Linked DNA regions of Homo sapiens: regions 2, 3, 4 and 5 are each reported to be linked to region 1. The links are microRNA targets in miRTarBase. Many come from high-throughput screens and were not tested one by one. Region 1 holds a microRNA gene; each other region holds the end of a gene's coding sequence.

Region 1 (4,489 bases):
CTCCATCTCATTGAGGTCTCCTTCCATCTTCTTCTTCACCCTCAGGACCTCGTTGCGGCTGCGTGTCTCTGCATCCAGGGAGGTCTGCAGCGAGTCCACCACCCGCTGGTGGTTGCGCTTGGCCTGTTCCATCTCCTCGTCCTTCTCTGCCAGCTTCCGCTCGATCTCTGCCTTGATCTGGTTGAACTCTAGCTGGGCCCGGAGGATCTTGCCCTCCTCGTGCTCCAGGGAGGCCTGGGAAGGGGTGGGGCGAGGGCGGGCAGACAGGGCACAGGGCAGGGTTGAGAGGGAGGATGAGAAGATACACGGTGTCAGCCAGGACTATCGCCCAGAGAAGAAGAGCTGAGAAGAGATGGGGAGGTGGGATCTGCACCCCATGCCCACCACGGTGCTATTGGGGAGAAAGTGCTGGACTCTCTGGGCTTCCCCTGTCAAGAAAAGGGTTTGGACCTCACAATTGCCAGACCCTCCAGCACTAACACTGCATAAATTCCTGACCTGTCTAAAGTATTATAGAAAATGGAGGAATTTTTATAACCACAAATACAAAATTTTATCTTGTTTTCCAGGTCCCTCACCCTTTCCTGAGAAAAGTTAGAAGCCCAGAAAACTCAGGGCTATTCCCAGGTGCTTAGAAATGAAGAGTAACAATAGCTAATATATATTAAGTGCTTAAATGTGTTACCTCATTTAATCTTTATAATAATCATGTGTAAAATCATATGAGGTATGTACAGTTAATTCCATTTTACAGATGAGAAAACTGAGGCAGAGAGAGATTAAAGATTTTGCCCAACGCTGCAGTGAAAGTCCTCAAGCTGTGTTCCAACTCAGGCCTGTTTGACTCTGGAACCCCACACTCCTACCCACTGTCTAAGTGGTTATTATTATGGCCAGATTCCAACTTTTAAAACCTGGTGGGAAACAAAACCTTTGGCCTCTAATCAGACTGACATTTTCCTTTGTGCAGACCTTGGCTTTGGAGGCAGTCATGGGTAGTGAATAGTGGGTAGATAATGTTGAACAAAGAATATGGAATGAATAGATTTTGTCCTGGGGTCAGGGTCACCCCCAGGTGAGGGAGAAGTGGGAGACAGCGGCAGAACAGGGATGGGGTGCAGGGAGTTCTCGGCCCTCACCTCTGCCTCCTCCAGGGCTGACTGCAGCTCCAGCTTCTCCACCTCCAGCTGTTTGCGGACCTTCTCCAGCTCATGCACATTCTTTCCTCCTTCTCCTAGCTGCTCAGTAAGGTCCGAGATTTCCTCTGGGGACCAGAGGGCCAGAAAGCTCAAAGCCTATGTTCCCCCTGCCCCTGCATGGCCCTCCCTCCCACCAACTCATCTCTGGCCTCTTGGACCCCCAGCACACCCTGAAGGTTCTTGTTCTCCCGCTTGAAGGTCTCTAGGTGCTCCAGGGACTCCTCGTAGGCGTTCTTGAGCTTGAAGAGCTCTGTGCTGAGGGAGCGAGCCTCCTTCTGTGAGGACTCCAGCTCAGACTGCGACTCCTCATACTTCTGCTTCCACTCGGCCAGGATCTGCCCGGGGACAAGGCTCACTCTTCAGCCCCCCAGCCTTAGCTCCCCAGCCCTCCTGCTTCCCAGTGCCCCAGCCCCCAGCCTCAGCCGCATGTCCAAGATCTGTCCCTGGTCCCGAGCCTGGGCTTAGCCCTCCTCCTCCACCTCCAAGGAGGTTGCCTTTGGCCTCTCACTGAACCCCTCATGCCCCCTTGCCCTGCATGCTGGCTGCGGCCCCCGCCCATGGTCCACCTTGTCAAAGTTTCTCTGCTTCTTGTCCAGGGCTGCAGCAGCAGCATTGGAGCGCTCTACGTCCACCATCAAGTCCTCTATCTCATTCTGTAGCCGGTGCTTGGTCTTCTCCAGTGAGGAGCACTTGGCATTAACAGCCTCCACGGCCTCCTCGGCATCCTGCAGCCGCTGGGCCAGCTTCTTTCTGCCCAGGTGAGGGTGGAGGGTGTGTGTGTGACTCTACTGGGCAACACTGGAGCCTTGGGTGGACCTCCTTCCACCCCCTCCCTATATCTCCTTGAGACACCGTAAGTCCAGCCTAGCAGGAGCTGAGCCTGCTCATGCCTGGAACAGAGTCCGCCAGCACGGGCTGCCCAGGCGTCCTCCCTACCTGCAGTGGCATCTGGGTGTCAGTGCCCCCTGCCCTCACCCCCCACACAGGCTGATCGACGGTAGCTCCTCTGACCAACAAGCTTTTTGCTCGTCTTATACGTGAGCATCAGGTATAACCCGGGCCAAAAGCTCGCCCGTCACAGGAAGTGGGTCAGGGCCAGCCAGAGTTCACAGAGCAAAGAGTTCAGGCTTTCTTCCAAGCACTTCTGTTGCCCTCCGAGTTCCTCCTGTCTCTTCCACTTCCGTCTCATGACCACTTTGCCTGTCCCCACCCCAGGTCCTCTCGCCCCTTCCTCTCTGAGAGTCAGGTTAAGGGGGTATCTGGAGCTCACTTGGCCTCTTCGAGCTCCTCAGTCCGCTGAATGGCGTCCGTCTCATACTTGGTCCTCCACTGGGCCACCTCCGAGTTGGCCTTGGACAGGACGCGCTGCAGCTCGGCCTTGGCCTCTGTCTCCTCCTCGTACTGCTCCCGCAGCAGGTCGCAGTCATGCCGGGCCGACTGCAGTGCATGGGCCAGGGCGTTCTTCGCCTGGGGAGGGGGGGGGGCACCAGGAGGTGGGAGGGACTCCCTGTGCCCCATTCTCTAGATTCTCTTCTTATGTAGTACTTCAACCAAGCCCAGCCTTATTCACCATGTGGGCTGATGTGGCACCTCACTGTTTGAGGAGTTTCCCAGTCTGCTCACCCCATCCCCTTACGAATAAGAAAAGAGGCATTAAATGACGCTTAGCTGCAGGGCAGAACCTAGACTGGAGGGTCTTTCCCTTGCAGAGGACTCTTTCCAGCTCCAGGCTCCATTTCTGGCACTGAGATGAATTGCCCCAGGGCTGCCATCAAGCCTGCCCACCCTCCCCACTGGGCCTCACCTTGCCCTCCTCCTCCAGCTGCCTTTTGAGGTCCTCCATTTGCTGGGTATAAGAGAGCTTCCCCCGGGTCAGCTGCGAGATTAGCGCCTCCTTTTCCTCTAGCTGCCGGGCCAACTCTCCTGGAGGTGAAATGAGGGGCTTGTGGGCCATTTCACAAGTCATGTCCTGCCCTAGGCAGGGGGTTGGTTAGGGGCACCCACCATTCTCGGTCTGCAGCTTGGCTCGCTGGGTGGTGAAATCATTGAGGGAGCGTTGGGCCTCTTCTAGCTTCACGCGGTACTCATTGGCCTGGTCCTCCAGCGTCCGAGACACTTTCTCCAGGTTTGCCTTCAGGAAGCAAGACAGGAAGGGTGAGTGTGGGAGGGGCTGAGTCGACCAGAGGAAGGAAGAGAGGGTCAGAGATGGGGAATGCCAGAGGGCAGGAGGGGGACACAGAAGGTGTGGGAGGGCGCAGTCTGAAGAGAGACTTGAATTAAAGAAAGGAGGAACATGAAGAGATAGAGAGGGTGAGGAGAGCCAGAGAGGGGCAGGGGAGACAGGAAGAGAGACCAAAGGGTGATGAAGAGAATGAGAATGACAAGGGAGATGGCAGACAGAGAGAGAAGGCATGGGGGAGGCTCCGCTGTGCAGGGGAGAGGGCGAGGGGAGGCCGAGCAGAGCCTGCCTTGGCCTTGATGATCTGCTCCATGTTGGAGGTGACGTCATCCAGCTCCAGCTTGAACTCGCTCTTCTCCTTCTCCAGCTTCTGCTTCACCCGCTGCAGGTTGTCGATCTGCTCGCCCAGCTCGGCCACGCTGTCGGCGTGCTTCTTGCGCAGGGCCGCGGCAGTGGCCTCGTGCTGCAGCGTGGCCTCCTCCAGGTCCCGCCGCATCTTCTGGAACTCGGCCTCGCGCTTCTTGTTCATCTCGATCTGCACGGACGTGGCCCCGCCGGCCTCTTCCAGCCGCTCGCTGATCTCCTCCAGCTCCCGAGACAGGTCTGAGCGCAGCTTCTCCACCTTAGCCCTGGCGGTGCGCTCGGCCTCCAGCTCCTCCTCCAGCTCCTCGATGCGTGCCTGGGTCAGACACAAAGGGCTCAGACCCACCGCCTGGACCCCTCCACTGGAATCCCCCCGGCTCTGAAAAGCTACCAGGAACTTAGGTTCCTCTCAAGCAGTGGTTCTCAACTAGGGGCAATTTTGTGCCCCAGGGAACAGTTGGCAATGTCTGATTGTCATGTCTTGGTGGGGCTTGCTACTGGCATCTAGAGGGTAGGGGCCAGGGATGCTACTAAACATCCTATAATGCATAGGCCATCAATAGGAATTTGGCTGAAGCTCCCAAGGGCATCTCAGACCCAGTGTGAGCATCTGCAGCCCCAAATCCTGAGAACCTGTGGTTGAAGGGGGATCCTGGTATCCTGTGAGATCAAGAAGTTCAGAGTCCCCAGATTCACTAGGCTCTGTTGCGCTATTCATAAGACGGGAAAATGAGTGCTTGTATTTTAC
Region 2 (4,000 bases), not on the chromosome of region 1:
GCCAGGTGCCATAGCAGCCTTTTCATTTGCTTTTTTTTTTTTTTTTCTTTTTTAAATGTATCACACAAGCCTGGAGAGAAGGGATTTTCTTTAGCCCCACTTAACAGAGAAAAGGCTTAGCAAGGTTTGTGTGAGGTCACCCAGCTGTAAAGGCAGCCAGGCGCCCTGGTTCAGAGCAAGGACTCTAGAGCCCCACGCCTGTGGGAGAGCATGTCACCTCTCTGGGCCACTGTCCCTTCATCTGTAAAATGAAGATTGTAAACTGTATAAGAAATATCCACCTCAGGGGGTTGCTGTGTGGGTACAGCAAGATCCATGTAGAATGCTGAGCATATTGGAAGTTCTGTCGTTTGCTCTTTCCTTATGTAGTTTATGACCGTTAAGCTCTCTGTAGTTCACTAAAGGGTGGGAAGAAGGGTAAGCCTGGGATTCCACCGCCAGGTCTGTGGGCAGACTAGGCTGGGCTCTTACCCACTGGGTTTGTCGTGGGGCCACTGCCTGCTGCCTCCATCCTGACCACTCTCTTTTCTCCCTGCAGATTGGCCACATCGAAGGACAGCCTGAAAGGAAGGGGGTCTTTCCAGTGTCCTTTGTTCATATCCTGTCTGACTAGCAAAACGCAGAACCTTAAGATTGTCCACATCCTTCATGCAAGACTGCTGCCTTCATGTAACCCTGGGCACAGTGTGTATATAGCTGCTGTTACAGAGTAAGAAACTCATGGAAGGGCCACCTCAGGAGGGGGATATAATGTGTGTTGTAAATATCCTGTGGTTTTCTGCCTTCACCAGTATGAGGGTAGCCTCGGACCCGGCGCGCCTTACTGGTTTGCCAAAGCCATCCTTGGCATCTAGCACTTACATCTCTCTATGCTGTTCTACAAGCAAACAAACAAAAATAGGAGTATAGGAACTGCTGGCTTTGCAAATAGAAGTGGTCTCCAGCAACCGTTGAAAGGCATAGAATTGACTCTGTTCCTAACAATGCAGTATTCTCAATTGTGTTACTGAAAATGCAACATTAGCAAAGAGGTGGGTTCTGTTTTCCAGGTGAAACTTTTAGCTCCATGACAGACCAGCCTGTAGTTATCTGTGTACACAGTTTACAGCTACAAAAACCTACTTTGGTATTTATTACAGAAAAGTGCTCAGTTAAATGTAAGTGTTATTCCTTCAGCAAAATATTCACTGACCCAAAACTCTTTATGGCATTTTACAATGCACACAGCCTCATGCAAGTTTAGACAAGTGGATTTATACTGTCTTATGAGTGCCCGCCCCTGATATATTACCTCATTATGCAAAAATAACATATCTTTCATGACTATTTTGACAAAAGTTTAAAACACATATGAAGTTCAAATTTCAGGAACCAAGGACTGCCAGAAAATATTAGCCTCTACATTACGCATGCATTTAGAAGCTTACCTGAAATCTGCCTTTTATAAAGGAATAGTATGGATAAGTGGAATTGTACATTTTTTAAACTTGATTGCCATTAAAGCAGAAATTATAAGGTTGCAACAATATTTGTTTCTAATCACTGGCTTTCTCAAGAGTATGGATTGACATATTGTGTTATGAATGCACATCTCTCAGATGTGTTGAAGCATCCATTGCATCCATTTTTTATTATTTTCTTAGTTTTGTTCTTGGACAAATTTAAACTTTTAAAAGATTATTCAAGATGAATTTAAAAGTCAACCCTTCACACAGTTTCCCTACTGTATGTAGAATCCAGGTGCTGAAACCAAGTGTTTCTTTTCCCATGCTCTTTGTTAAACCCCAATTATAGATAATTTTTCCAGTCTTAAGCTCTGTCCACCTTCAAGTCAATTCATAACCAAGTTTTTGAACGCTGCTATGAATTGCACTGTGAAAAGCACTCTTCCCTCTCAGTTTTCTTTTCATCCCAGCCATGTTTATCAGATCCTTAAGAACATTGTATTTCAGTCTTTTACATCAGTCTGAATTTTGGAAAAGAATGCAATAGTTGTACTCCACAGTCAGTGGAACTGTTCCCTGAGTCCGAGGCTCATGTGTCATTCTGGCACTACATTTGCTTAAATTGCTATTTTGGCAACAGCACAGAAAACTAATATTTTTAAGCAGAGAATCTTGGCAATGAGTGAGAGATGTTAATTTCACAGAAGCACAACTCCCAACCCAACCCTTAGGAAAAGCCCTCTTCCATCGTTACAGTGCTCAGTGAATATTAATTTAGTTCTGCTTAAGTGGTTGCTATACAAACTTTGAATAGCCACCTAATAAATAAACCTTGCATGACAAACCTGCAAAATATTTTATCAGCTGTTATTGGAAAGTGATTTTAAGCAATTGCTTCCTCAGTGTCAGGGCACATGTGAATTTCCACACCAAACAGAGCATGAGGAACCAGTTGACATGCTGGGTTGTGACTGGCAGCTTTAGCAGCCTCGGTACTGAAGCCACACCAGTGTCCGGATGGAAGTCTGCATCTGAGGTTGCTCAGTGTCCCGGTCATTCATTTACACATTTTAACTTGCATTAAAGAGCTGTTCTTTTCTGTGGCCTAGACTCTTTTCACTGATCTCAAAATAAACTGGTTTTTTTCAAAAAAAAAAAAAAAACAAAAACAAAAAAAAAACACAAAAGCTGCATGTCTAAAATTACATGGAGTTAGTGTCTATTCTTTTTCCCCTTTTGCAGCAACTTACACAGCATTTTTAACACCTTTTTTTTCTAGTTTTTTTGTTCGGTTTTGTTTTCCATCAGGAATTTGAGTTCTCTCTAACCCAGCTTACTGTGGGACATAGGAAAACTCAGTAGAAATACCTTTGGTGATCTTGTTGAGTTTAAGTCTGATCTTGATCTTAAACTCAGTAAGCCACTATCTGCAATTTTGTACATTATATAGTATTTTGAAGATATGGAACCTTATGAAAAAAAAATAGCAAATTAGTTCTTTTTCCCCCAGAGGGGAAAGTTATGTTCTGCAAATAGTGTGTGTCTTATTTTACTGTTGAACAGCAATTGCTATTTATTTTTTTATTGCCTAGAACTTCAACATGTTGTATAGGAATCCTGTAGTGCCACTAGTTAAATGCCGAATTCTCATCTGGATGTTACCATCAAACATCAGTACACTTGTCATTTCACATGTGTTTAATGTGACAGTTTTTCAGTACTGTATGTGTTAATTTCTACTTTTTTTAATATTTAAAATTGCTTTTAAATAAACATATTCTCAGTTGATCCCAAACTTCTGAAATCAGGCCATTTTGTGAGTTGTTCACTACCCTGCTGACAGGAGAGAATCAAGGCTTCCTCTGGCTGTGCTTTCGGGTATATAGATGACACAGGTCACTCCAACCCTTGTCAGAGATCACTCTGGATACATAAAAATATGTGGCACTTGCCCCGGCTTACAAACTGTGGGCCTTCGGCCCCTTTCTGTCCTCCACCTTCCGCATTCCACCTCCACCACGTCCACTTGTGCGCCCGTTGATGTGAACAGGGCAAGAAGAGGGTGGAGGGGCACGAGGCTTACATGTTGTCGTGTGGACAGCACTTCTGTCACGTAGCTGTCACAACTAGTGCTGCCACGCAGTGGAGCAGACCTGGCCCAGGCACTCTGCCTGCATTAACCCCTGAATCCTTAGCAAGCCCAGGAGAAGCGTGAGCCCCTCAGCTTTACAGAGCTGACAAATGAGGCTCAGAGGCATTCATTCACACACAGGAGACATGTGGCTTGTAAATCACTAAGGTGGGAGTGCACACAGGTGGTTCTGGCTCCAAGGCCATCCTTGCAATTCCCACTGCCTGGAAGACACTCTCCTTTATGGAGAACCACAGTGGCGGAAAGCAGGCCGAGACTGCGGCAGGGAGGATCCCGAAGTGCTGGTCTCAGCATTCCTTCTGTCATCTTTCATGGAAGTTGGTAGACATGGCTGGGCACGGTGGCTCACGCCTGTGTTCCCAGCACTTTGGGAGCCTGAGGCGGGTGGATCACCTGAGGTCAG
Region 3 (4,000 bases), not on the chromosome of region 1:
CGCAGAGGCAGCTTGGTGTGGACACCTATCTTCTAATTGCTATGTGACGGGGATCAAGGTAGGACAGAGTGGGTTTTTTTCATCCATTCAACAAATACGTATTGAGTGTCCAAGCAATGAACAAGACAGACCCAGTCCCAGAAAGCTTGAGACTCAGTCTATGGGCAAGAGAAACCTTAAACAAAAACAGACATAGTCAATTAATGCATTTATCATAGCTGGGGTGAAGGGCAGGAAGCAGTGGAGGATAGCTTAAGGACACATTTGAGGGGACCTGCACTATTTAGGGTGTCAACTTCTCTGAAGAAACGAAGTTTAAACTTTGGGCTGAAGTACACAGTGGCCGTTGAGGGGAGGAGGAAGAGTGTTCACGGAAGAAAGGAAGAGGCATTCAACATATATTTATGGAGCACCTAATATGTGCCAGGTAGTTCTTGTTCTGGACATCCAGAGAGGAACAAAACAGTCCTCCCCTCTTGGAGTTCCAAATGTGCAAAGCTTAGGGATGGGAGGGTGCCTGGCCTGCCTGACAGTGTTGGAGGAACTGAAAAATTGGCGTGGCTGCAGCACAGAGGTGAGGAGTGTGGGGAGAGGCAGTGGGTGGGACCTGAGCATGCAGTGCCTGCCGGTCACATTTGGGAAGTTAGACTCTAATGGTTTGGGATTCTCTGGGAGGCCTTTTGGCCAATCCCAGCCAAGCCCTTCTGGGTTGAAGAGACTCAACCTCAGCAGCCTGAGGCTACTTAGGATTGCCTTATTAAAAAAAAGGCCAGGAGCAGTGGCTCATGCCTGTAATCCTAGCACTTTGGGAGGCCAAAGCAGGAGGATTGCTTGAAGCCAGGAGTTCAAGACTAGCCTGGGCAACAGAGAGAGACCTCGTCTCTACAAAATATTTTAAAAAGCTGGGCATGGTGGCGTGGGCCTATAGTCCCAGCTACTCGGAAGGCTGAGGCAGGAGGCTTGCCTGAGCCCAGGAGTTCAAGGTTACAGTGAGCTCTGATTGTGCCACTGTACTCCAGTATGGGAGACAGAGCCATCAAAAAAAAAAAAAAAAGAGAGAGAGAGAGATTTTTCTCAAACTTCCACCCAGTCACCACCCTGAGATGCGCGACATCAAAAAAAAGTTAAGACTCCTAGAATGTCAGGGTATGAAGGCCCCTAAGAAAACATGGAGTCCAACCTCTTTATTGTATAGATGGGAAGACCGAGGCCTAAAGAGGGTGATGATTCTCTCAGGGTTGGACCCTGTTGATACCATCATATCCCCTCTGCCTACCTGTCCACCCTACAGGTCACTGGAAGATAATTCCTGGACACACCTTGGACAGCTCCCCACATTTCTCTATTTGGAGCTTTGGGGTGGTAGGAAATTGATGCCCTCAGAAAGGACACCCCCAACCAGCAAGAAACCAGAGTTGGTGGAAAACATCATTTCTTCACTCTCGATGGGACAACCTGAAGGCATGTTCTAGTCAATACTCCTTCTCACAGGTCCCCAACAAGAGTTAGAGACAGAGTCTCGCTCTGTTGTTCAGGCTGGAGTGCAGTGGCGCCATCATGGCTCACTGCAGCCTTGAACTCCTGGGCTCAAGCAATTCTCCCACCCGAGTAGCTGGAGTATAGGTTCTCACCAACACGCACAGCTCTTTATCTTTGACTTTCTGTTTCATTTCTCTATTCCCTCATTATGCTTCCTGGGATCATTTCACAGATAAGCTACTTGCTCCCAAATCCTTGTCTCAGGGGCAGTCAACAGAGACAGTGGCAGAGGACCATGGGAGAGCTAGAATTTCAGGTCTCCAGACTCCTAGTCCAGTGCTCTTTCCAGGGTTTCTCAACCTTGGCACTATTAACATTTTGGACTGGATAATGCATTGCTAGGGAGGGTTGACCTATGCACCGTAGGATGTTTAGTAGCATCCCTGACCTTTGTCCACTAAATGCCACTAGCATCCTCCAGTTGGGAACAGTCAAAACTGTTTTCTGCTTTATCAGAAGTTCCCCGGGGCAAAACACTGTGGTTGCAAACCACTATTCCACATCAGGCCATCTCCCTTGCCAGGTCCAGAGAAAGAATTTCAAGCCCCAAGATTCCTTTCCCCTCCCTGTTGCTCTTTAGATCACATAAATGAAACCACTGGAAACTGACCCCCCAATCCTTTATTAGAGATGAGTGAAATAACAAGTCTGAGATGAATGAAACCAGACACTGGGGGCTCAAAAGACAACCCTGTTCCTGTGGGAACCACAGACCAGTCAGGTCTCCAGGGGAAACAGCACAGCCTCCCCAGCCAGGCAGCTGTGTTGGCCATTGGTGCTCTCTAGTCTCCCCTGCTTGGCTTGGCCCATTCCTGCCAGGGCCCAGCACCCAGCAACTGGCAAGTTGAGATGTTAGTGGTTGATGATGGCTTAGGTGTATCTGCTTTCTCATTGGGGCTGAGCAATGATAGAATTTCTAGGGCTGGGAAGCAGAACCCTTAAGTCTCTGCCCTCCCAATTCTATTACTCTCCCTTCTTTCTTTGCCTCTCCATTCCCTCAGACTAAAAGGCTCCTGAGTTGACCAAGAGAAAGAGAAGAGAAGTGGGCATCCATCAACCCTGACTATTCCTTTCCTTCCTGCTAAATCAAGGACACAGGCAAATGTGGGTGCATCTGACTCTACAATTTGGCTGGGGAATATAGGAGAATGCCTAGGGAAGGCTGTGCTGTCCCTCAAAAGGAGTGACATTCAGAATATTTTTATTTAACAGCCAGTACAGCATGCATGTTGACCAGCCAGAATGGATGTGATCTGTAGACAATTGTAATGGTCATATAGGTATAAACCAGCTGAGTCCAGAGCCATGCCCTGGAATCTGACCCTGCCTATTCCCAAGCCCAACCCTTAAGACCAGCTTTCCACCAAAGGACCACCCCTGCAGGGCCCTTGTCTTACTCGTGTGGTATCTGAAGTGCCTAACACAGGTCCAGACATAGAGTTGGAATTTAGTGAAGGAATATTAGACTAATAAATGGCTGGCTGAGAAGACAGTCCCTACTTGGCAGGGTCCCTGATCTGGAAGTCAGTGATGGAGGGCTCTCCTGCCCTTGTGAAGCCCCCAGACTGACGGGGGAAATAGAGTCTCGATCTGATGAGGGACTGAGAGTTCTGCAGCTGAAGCCAGCTCAGGAGCACTCAGATCCAGCCACAGGGCTCCCAGGCCCCTAGCGGGTAATGAGATAGGAAAGAACCGCCATCAGTCCTAACAGGGAAAGGCCATGTGTCCTTGGTAGAGGCATGGCCTGTGGCAGGAAGAAGGCCAGCTACAGAGGCACAAGGGACAGAGAGAGTGAGATCCAAGAGAACAAATGTCTCAGCTCCCCAGTTTTGTGAGCTCAAGTCCCAGCTCTGAACATTGGGGCCTAGCATGGGGCATGTGGGGGCCAGCAAGGAGCTAGTCTTGCAAAAGTTGCACAGAACTTGCTGGGAGACTCCCAGTCCTTGAGCCATCTCCTTCAGTGATGCCAACCTGCAGAAAGAAGGATGAAACTGACATTTTCAAAGCACCTGTAACATACCAGGTGTTCATCTCACTCAGTTTCACATCTGTCCTATTGTAGATAAATTAAATTATTCTCATTTTACAGACAAAGAAACTGAGGCTTGAGGAAGTGAAGCCACTTATCCAAAGTCTCCTTACTCTAAAGCCCAAGCTCTTGCTATCATACACACCACAATCACAGGCATCAATTAAATGCCATCTGATGGATACTTGGTTTTCAGGGCAATAGTGGAACCAGAATATGGACATAGATTTGTGTCTGCTGACTAACTCTGGTGGACTAAAGATGACGATTCCCCAGACAGAACCAGCTTTTGCCCCTGCCATCCTGACTCCCAACACAACCAATGCCATTCTGAGGAATTCCCAGAGGAACAAGGGACAGAAGAGGCTTCTTTCCCAACACAACTGGCTCTGATCTGTGCCCACTCCTAGGTTCAACTAATATATGCCATTG
Region 4 (4,000 bases), not on the chromosome of region 1:
GAATAGTAATGACACCCATTACTGTGGATGAGTTTTCTCAATTTTAAAATAGCGATTGCACAGAAGTGGTAAATAAAACATTAATCTCTATGTATCTTTGAAGGTATTATTCATATGGAGCGGAATCATTTGGCAAATCATTTACTTATTTCAGGTGTTTAAGATAACCTAGTATAATAAGCCTGAGGTCTTGTTGCATATTTATTTAAAATGCATGACGTCTTATTATATAAAATAATTACTAGCTCTTTAGAAGCTTCAGAGGTGAAAGGTGTAGACACATCATCTCCTTCTGAATCAGAGACCTCAGTGTCTCTATGGAACCTTTTTCAAAAGGCAGCCACATTCAGTCACGCCTTCTATACTGTCAGAGGCAGGAGGGCGATCTTGGGTTTTGGATGATTCAAGTAGACTCTGCCACACAAACGTGCTTCTGCATCCTGTGTTCTGTATTTCACGGGCAGCGTTTCTGGCTTCCCAGGCACTGAGCAGCCTGTGGGGGGCACGGCAGGGCAGGACTGGGGTGTGTGGGTAGATAACCTCCTGGGACGGCTGCCTCTCTGTGGAGCACACTGCCAGCCCAGGCGCAGCGACCACAGAGCACATATTCTGGAGCCCTTCATTTTATTTGCTCAATGAAAATACTTCGTCCTTTTTTATCAGCAATACATATAGTTCCAACAAGAACTATTCATCACAAACTGCCAGCCTGGGGATTTCTTCATGAAATATTTTGTATTTGCTTGGTACATGGTTCAAGGAAACTCTTGTGTTTGTGCCAATCAGGGAAATAAACTGAACAATAAACGACACTGAAATAGAGTATTAGGCAATATGTAGCTTTGTTTTTGCTTTTTTTTTTAAAAAAAACCACTGAATTTTTTTCCACCCACAAACACATGGAAAGTGCAGAAACCAGTTAATCTATGTGATGTATTTGCATACGTTTACAAACAAGACAAATTAAAACAGAAACATGTTCAGAATTTAACCTGATTAAATATTAAGTTCAGTCCTGAGCTTTTGATATTTAAGACAATATAGATAAAGCAATAGCAAAAAATTTTAATTTATTTGATTTGCATGCTACAGAGATTTAGCTAAACTTTGTTCATTTGGCTAGCAATATTCTTTTTGTACCTGTAACACTTAAGATTCTGATATACAAAATTGTAATAATATACTGATAATTCAAACTTGAGAACTAAATATTACATTCTTTTTACCCTGTGCGAATAAATTCTACCTTTTAAAAATAGTATTTATAATATTAAAATTCATATTTGTCCATATGGTTTTGTGATCAAGTTATTAAAATGTTTTGTCACTGTGAATCATTTGGGTTAGTACAAATATGACAAGATTATTAAAAGCTGCCTATAAATACATAACACTATTGCTGACTTTTAAAGTGTAGAAAAAGGATTATATTAAAATAAGTTCATCTCTCATGTTAGAAATGAGGAAATTTTGTGAAATACAACAACCAAAAGCATCTTGGTCACAACTGCTAACTACCAGCCTGAGACAGATTTTATTCTTTAATACTTGTCTGAAACTTTTTGTATTACAAAAAGTCAACAGCTAATCTGATGAAAGACTTATAAAGCTGTAAATATTCCAATATAGTCTCTTCTGTGTCAAATATTTAAAATGGCCAGAATCAAACTATATATTAAACAGAACATAAATAAGACTGTAAATAAATAAATGAAGAAAATAAAATCGTACGGAACAACTACACATAATTCTATAGACATTTTCATGGTCAAACTAAGATGCTGAAAACAGCTCACCTTCATTTACCTCTACATTAAATAAACTTCTGTCTTTCACATTTGACCTTGACAAGGGTGAACTGTATTCTTTTTCTAGTTTTCCTTAGTCATCTAATAGAATGAACTGGGCAGCCTTAAAGGACTGTACTCAGTCAATTCACTAGGCTGGTTTTTGTTCAAAGCAGTGTCTGCCATGTCCAGTTATGTCTTCAAAGAAATTTGTATGTAAGTGTTGGGACATTTAGGAAAAAGTAATTAAAGTTCTAGGCTCAGAAGTTGCTTAATTTGAACTTCAATTCCAATAACATGAACTTTCCAAAATATATATAATTGCTTTCAAGAAAATAAAAATTCTTGCTAGTGAGCTAGTGAGCATTCTAACTGAGGAACAAAACTTTTTTTTTTTTTCTTCAAGGGGTCCATTCCTTTAAGACAATTTTGGATTTCTTTAAAAAATCTATTTTATTTGCTATATTAGATGGCTAACCCAAAATTGTTTCTTGGGTTATTGAGTAATAAGTATGGTTTAAATGGCCTAAATACTACATATTTTAAAAGCCTTGATGCTGGCAGAGCTGCACTGAGGATCTGTGTTTTTAAGAAGTGCCTGGGTCGGGTAAGGTGAAATTCTAAACTGGAGGACACATTAGTCAGTTTATCTCTCTAAACTTGTTCATCCAAAATAGGCTTTTTAATAAACAATTTAGCTTATACTTCAAATTAATAATCCCCCCACACACATTCTTCCCTTTGCCTCCCAACTATTTACCATAAATTATAGATAGAACCCCCTAAAAATGAGAGCTATGAAGTAGTTTCTACTAAATGTTAGAAATCTGCTTGATAAACTCTTCTTTGTTTTTGGCAACTTTGATTCTATCAAGACATCTTTCCCCCTCTTCTTGGTTACACCAAATGAGTGCCGATGCATTTCCCTCCACCCCTCCAGCTCTCTCTGTCCTCAGAACACAGGGCCACCACTAGGCACCATCCTTAGATTTAGGGCAAAACACTAGTGCAAGCCAGAAACTCACTTTTGAACACTTAATGCAAATTCAGGCTGAGTGAGACAAACCAGCTGCTCATTTGATGAGCTTATTTGTATCTCTGCGTGGCTGGTGTTCTTTCTTCTCCCTGCCCTCAGTGTCATGAATCCCAAGATCTTTCGTGTAGCCAAGAGTAGTGCTCCTTTGTATTCTTATTCTTATTTTTATTCTTAAGAGCACTTGGTAGTTTATATCTTAGTTTTCTTTAGAAAAATATAAAAGGACAAAAAGGAAATTGTCTTAAGGAAACCAGGTGTTCCCGCACAGGTGATGGCCGTGGACGCAGCATCCATTTCGGGCGGACTTTGGAACGCTGCACTCCAGCGTGTGCTCACACTGCCTCCAAATGGAAAGCGCTCCTCTCCTCGCCAGCGCACAGATACCACGTGGCGCTGCTGCCATCGGCACAGCCTACTCACAGGAACACAAAGGAGAAGCAAAACCACCGGCTGAACCAAGTTGTTTCTCAACAGCCGGCTCAACAGTACACATGTGGGGTACTGCCTCTATTCCATTTTTACAAAATGAAGTCCACTGGCAATGCGCACATACTGGGCAACATTTGTGTACCAGGTTATCCCATCTTTCTTATATGATTTTTTCTTTTTTAAGCATATAAAAATTACACTCAAGGTACTTTACAAATTAATGTGTTGAAAATCTGATGTGAAATAAAAGTTCTTCAAGAGTTGACAGTTACGTTACCAAAAAAAACCAAACACCAAAACAAAAACACAAATCTTCAGTCTTTTACCCTCCCTAAGAAAGTGAACAGATGAAAAAATAATTTCTTAAGTCATGTAATCACACATCATCAGCTGGCAGGGATGGGATGCTTATCTTTGCTCTGGTGAAGTAGGCAATCTTCTCCCTAGAGTTGGGGTGAGAAATAAATTGACTTATATATGATGCTAAAAATACTCTGGGACCATTAAAACAGTCCCCAAGACCTGCAGTGGCAGTGATGTCTCTGCAAGCACAGGTAGAAGCTCTTTTCCTTACGCAGAACTCCATTTAAAATCAGGAGAGCCTCTGCCTGCTTAAAGGGGGGGTATCAAGGAGAACAGCAGCTCTGGATCACGGAAGTCACCTACAGACCAAGCCCGTAAGTTCCCTTCAGGGAACTTCCAACAGAAGACAGTTTTTAAACTAGTAGGGGTTTGGTCTAGGATGGGT
Region 5 (4,000 bases), not on the chromosome of region 1:
GCTCTGTCGCCCAGGCTGGAGTGCAGTGGTGCGAGCTCTGCTCACTGCAAGCTCCACCTCCCAGGTTCATGCCATTCTCCTGCCTCAGCCTCCTGAGTAGCTGGGACTACAGGCACCCGCCACCACGCCTGGCTAACTTTTTTGTATTTTTAGTAGAGACGGGGTTTCACCACGTTAGCCAGGATGGTCTCGATCTCCTGACCTCGTGATTCGCCCACCTCAGCCTCCCAAAGTGCTGGGATTACCAGTGTGAGCCACCGCGCCCAGCCAAGAACTGATTTTAAAATAAATTCCATCTCAGCAATAACAATGAAAAATAAATGAATAAACAAATAAATTTGGTCTCAAGCATTCAGAAAGAGTAATTTTAATGCCTTGGTCGAAGAATTGTGACTCTATTTAATAGCTTAATTGCCTTTTTGTTTTTAATCTTTCCCAGCATGCTCATGCACATTCATCTGGATACTTCATCACTCAAGACTCTGCATTTGGGAACCTTATTCTTCCTGTTTTACCTCGCCTTGACCCAGAATGAAGAAAACATTTGCGATGGAAAAGTGACTTTGTAATATCAAATGCCAAAGCTACTATCATTCAGTGCTACATGAACTGTGACTTTAAGAATTTTGGTGAACTTTGATATTTTTTGTTTGTCTGAAAGAAAGGAATGTGTAAGTGAAAGCTGAAAGAAGAATAACCAGGATGATGAGAGCTGTGGAAGCTGTATCGTCCAAGGAATTGATTATGTACCGTGACTGTAACTTTTTTGTAATGCTGTTTAACTCTCAATCAGACTGTGAACTGGATGGTCACGAAGTCATTCCCCAACTCCTAGCAAGTTTGACTGAATATATCATGTCCACAGTAGATTTTCAAGAATCATTTATAGTACTTAACTTTAAAGAAACAAGGCTGCTTTTAAAAAATGAACTAATAGGCTTAAATCAATTGCATCCATATTTGCTGTTTATAGGATTGCTATCAGTATACCTTTTGCGTTTATAGTCAACATGTATCATCCTGAAATATTCTTTCTGGACTTATAACTACTTCCCCCTTTTTCACTTTAAAACAAACCTCAAGAATAAATTACTAACCAGTCTTAACCATCTTTTATAAACATATGCTCTTATAAATGTTGTGACTAGATGCAATTAAAAATAATAGGGAATGTGGTAGGTTTTTAATTTGTACATCCTCTTATTTAGTGTTACCACATAAATGATGAGTTTGTGTGGTTCTGTTTTCCATTTTTGTTCTAACTGAAAACTTTTTGGCTGGGCACGGTGCCTCATGCCTGTAATCCCAGCACTTTGGGAGGCCAAGGCGGGCAGATCACTTGAGATCAGGAGTTTGAGACCAGCCTGGCCAACATGGTGAAACCCTGTCTCTACTAAAAGTATAAAAAATTAGCCATGTGTGGTGGCACACGCCTGTAATCCCAGCTACTCAGGAGGCTGAGGCAGGAGAATCGCTTGAACCTGGGAGGCAGGGGTTGCAGTGAGCTGAGACGGTGTCACTGCACTCCAGCCTGGGTGACAGTGAGTCTTTGTCTCAAAGAAAAAAAGAAAAAGAAAACTTATGCAAGTCGAGCTCCTTTTTAATTAAGTAGGAAGGGATTAGGTTAAGAAAGTCTCTCAACATGACCCATCTTTAGCAGTATCTGGGGTGCTTATTTAAGTATGCAGTCCCACTACCCTACCCTAGTCCTACAGAATTAGAATCTGATTCAAAATAAAGTCTGAAAACCATGAGATAGAGAATTCTATGAAATATCTTGTACAGATTTTCGTGATATATTTATACACGCATGGGTTTGTAGATCCCTGAAACTTAGAGGTCATTTAGCTAAAATCTACATTTTTTTTAACTTTTAATAGGATTGAAATGATATTTTACACTGTATCACAGATACAGTATTTTATATAACTTTTTGTAACTGACCTTATCTTGGCCTTGAGTCCCATCCTCTCTGGTGGTAGCGTAAAACTGAAAATTCCAGTTTGGGTCAATATTTAGTGAAAGTTCTACTTTCTTTTCAGAGAGTTTGTTCCCCCCTTTCTTCCTTAGATGTTTTCAAACACACAGCCCCATCCTACTCAAACCAAGTGAAGCAAGAGTGGACAATTCTAGAATTGGCTGTGCCATGTAGGTTTTTTTTAGAATTTGAACTGATTTCCTTCATTTTGATGAGGTGGCAACTGTCCCCATTGTAATGGTCACCATTGCAGCGAGGATAGCCTTACTTCTGCGGCGCAGAGCTCCTCAGGGGGCCTCTGGCTCCTGTCCTTCCTCAGGTCCATCCAACTACTCCTTGGGCCTCCTTATGGTAGCCCTCATTGTCTTGAGTTGATTTCACTAGGTTTCTGTTCTCTGTCATCTGCAACATAACTGACATGGTTCTAAATCTGTCTCTAAGGAGATAACACATTAGTATATTTTCTACACTATTGAAGCCTCTACCTAATGTATGACTTTTGTAGCTCAGGTAAAGAGATCTTTTTACCAGTGTTATCGTTTCTAGTCTGTTTGTTAGTCTTCTTTTAAATAGATATGGCCTAAATCCTGTATTCCTGGCTAGGAAGCACTTCTCTCCACCCCTCTGCTTTGAGTTACAAATTCAATTCAATTTCCTATGTATTTATTAATACCTACAGATAAAGTACTGTGCTTTGGGGGACACAAAGGTGACTGGTACCTGCTCTTTTAGGAGGTCACCGTGCAGAGGATCCTATTCTGGTACACCAATAGTTATAAAGCAAGCCACAGCCTAGGCAACATAGTGAGACCCCTGTCTCTACTAAAAAATTAAAAAAAAAAAAAAAAGATTGGCTAGGTGTGCTGGTGCATGCATAGAGTCCCAGCCACTCGGGAGGCTGAGGTGGGAGGATTGCTTGAGCCTGGGAGGTTGAGGCTGCAGTGGGCCATGATTGCACAACTTGGCAACAGAGTGAGACCCTGTCTCTAAATCAATCAATCAAGCGAGCCAGAATGCAGTAGTGGCCTGAGAGAGGCATCCTGGAACGCAGTGCGGTCTGGCTAGGCTTAGAAGTATTCATGTGATTTTTACCTGACAAGGGAAGGAAGAGCTGCTCCACGTGCAGAGCAAGGTTTCAGAATGAGAGGAGAAGAGCAGGCACTGCAGAGGGTGAGGGAAAGGGCAGCAGTGGACTGGGAAGCCCTCAGGTGGAGGTCAGCATTGCTTCCCTCAGATCATGGGTGAATTTGAGGAACTCAGTTAATATCTTTGTATGTTCCTCCCTCCATAAGGTGAGAACAAGCACATGCTCTGCCCATGTCAGAAATTGTCTAGACTAGTGTTTTTCAAAGTGCAAAAGCCTCAACCCATTACTGAGTTGAGAAGCCAACTTAATGGTTTAACAGGATTGACCAGCATTTTTTCCGAAAAAATCAAAAACATCTGAGTGTACTGCATATAGAAATAGGTGGTTTTGCCTCATGAATATTCTGTTTCTGTGTGTTCCTATATTTTACTTTGTATTGTGTTGGTTTTTTAAGAGACAGTCCTGCTCTGTCATCCAGGCTGGAGTGCAGTGGTATAATCATAGCTCACTGCAAGACTCCTTGAATCCCTGGGCTCAAGCAATCCTCAACCCTTAGCCTCCCAAGTAGCTGAGACTACAGGCACATGCCACCATGCCCAGCTAATTTTTTTTTTTTTTTAATTTTTGTAGAGACAGCATCTTGCTATGTTGCCCAGGCTGGTCTTGAACTCTTGGCCTCAAGCAGTCCTCTCGATCCTCCCACCTTGGCCTCCTAAAGTGCTGAGATTACAGGTGTGAGCCACTGCATCTGGCTTACTTATTTTGTCTATTGTCTGTTCCACTAGTATGTAAAGTCTTAGAGAGCAAGAATTTTTGTTTATTTCTTTCTCTTCCTCCTTTCCTTTCTTCCTCTTTTACTTCGTTCACTACTGTATTCCACATAAAATATATTTGGCATATAGTAGGTGTTCAATATGTTGAAGGAATGAAAGAAT

The links. Region 1 holds the annotated microRNA hsa-miR-208a-3p (AUAAGACGAGCAAAAAGCUUGU, at 2,213-2,234, opposite strand). A microRNA usually pairs through its seed, bases 2 to 8, with sites in the 3' UTR of a target mRNA and lowers its output. Matches are read on the target gene's strand: a 7mer-m8 pairs with bases 2 to 8, a 7mer-A1 pairs with bases 2 to 7 and ends in A, and an 8mer does both.
Region 2: miRTarBase lists ASAP1 as a target of hsa-miR-208a-3p. Seed matches in the 3' UTR shown: 7mer-A1 at 1,807-1,813.
Region 3: miRTarBase lists ASAP3 as a target of hsa-miR-208a-3p. Seed matches in the 3' UTR shown: 7mer-A1 at 2,886-2,892.
Region 4: miRTarBase lists WWC2 as a target of hsa-miR-208a-3p. Seed matches in the 3' UTR shown: 7mer-A1 at 2,206-2,212 and 7mer-A1 at 1,031-1,037.
Region 5: miRTarBase lists INIP as a target of hsa-miR-208a-3p. Seed matches in the 3' UTR shown: 7mer-A1 at 1,100-1,106.

Annotation. Positions count from the first base shown.
Region 1 is chr14:23,386,390-23,390,878 of GRCh38, forward strand. It overlaps MIR208A (microRNA 208a), which reads right to left and starts at 2,277; the gene lies at 2,207-2,277. It overlaps MYH6 (myosin heavy chain 6), which reads right to left. Exons shown (of 39, transcript NM_002471.4): 26 at 3,668-4,057; 27 at 3,204-3,330; 28 at 3,004-3,122; 29 at 2,470-2,666; 30 at 1,766-1,949; 31 at 1,369-1,534; 32 at 1,140-1,264; 33 at 1-234. RefSeq lists enhancers at 1-505, 2,555-3,158, 3,159-3,762.
Region 2 is chr8:130,051,344-130,055,343 of GRCh38, reverse strand. It overlaps ASAP1 (ArfGAP with SH3 domain, ankyrin repeat and PH domain 1), which reads left to right. Exons shown (of 30, transcript NM_018482.4): 30 at 539-3,240. The coding sequence ends at 613. Among named protein-coding and RNA genes, the nearest start is that of ASAP1-IT2, 31 kb to the left of the region's middle. RefSeq lists a silencer at 140-342.
Region 3 is chr1:23,426,421-23,430,420 of GRCh38, forward strand. ASAP3 (ArfGAP with SH3 domain, ankyrin repeat and PH domain 3) reads right to left here. Exons shown (of 25, transcript NM_017707.4): 25 at 2,143-3,510. The coding sequence ends at 3,436. It overlaps LOC124903875 (a long non-coding RNA gene), which reads left to right. Exons shown (of 3, transcript XR_007065535.1): 3 at 1,292-2,563. Among named protein-coding and RNA genes, the nearest start is that of TCEA3, 3.7 kb to the left of the region's middle.
Region 4 is chr4:183,315,358-183,319,357 of GRCh38, reverse strand. It overlaps WWC2 (WW and C2 domain containing 2), which reads right to left. Exons shown (of 23, transcript NM_024949.6): 23 at 1-3,695. The coding sequence ends at 3,629. It overlaps CLDN22 (claudin 22), which reads left to right. Exons shown (of 1, transcript NM_001111319.3): 1 at 1-1,258. Among named protein-coding and RNA genes, the nearest start is that of CLDN22, 2.9 kb to the left of the region's middle.
Region 5 is chr9:112,684,073-112,688,072 of GRCh38, reverse strand. INIP (INTS3 and NABP interacting protein) reads left to right here. Exons shown (of 5, transcript NM_021218.3): 5 at 440-4,000. The coding sequence ends at 535. Among named protein-coding and RNA genes, the nearest start is that of INIP, 32 kb to the left of the region's middle.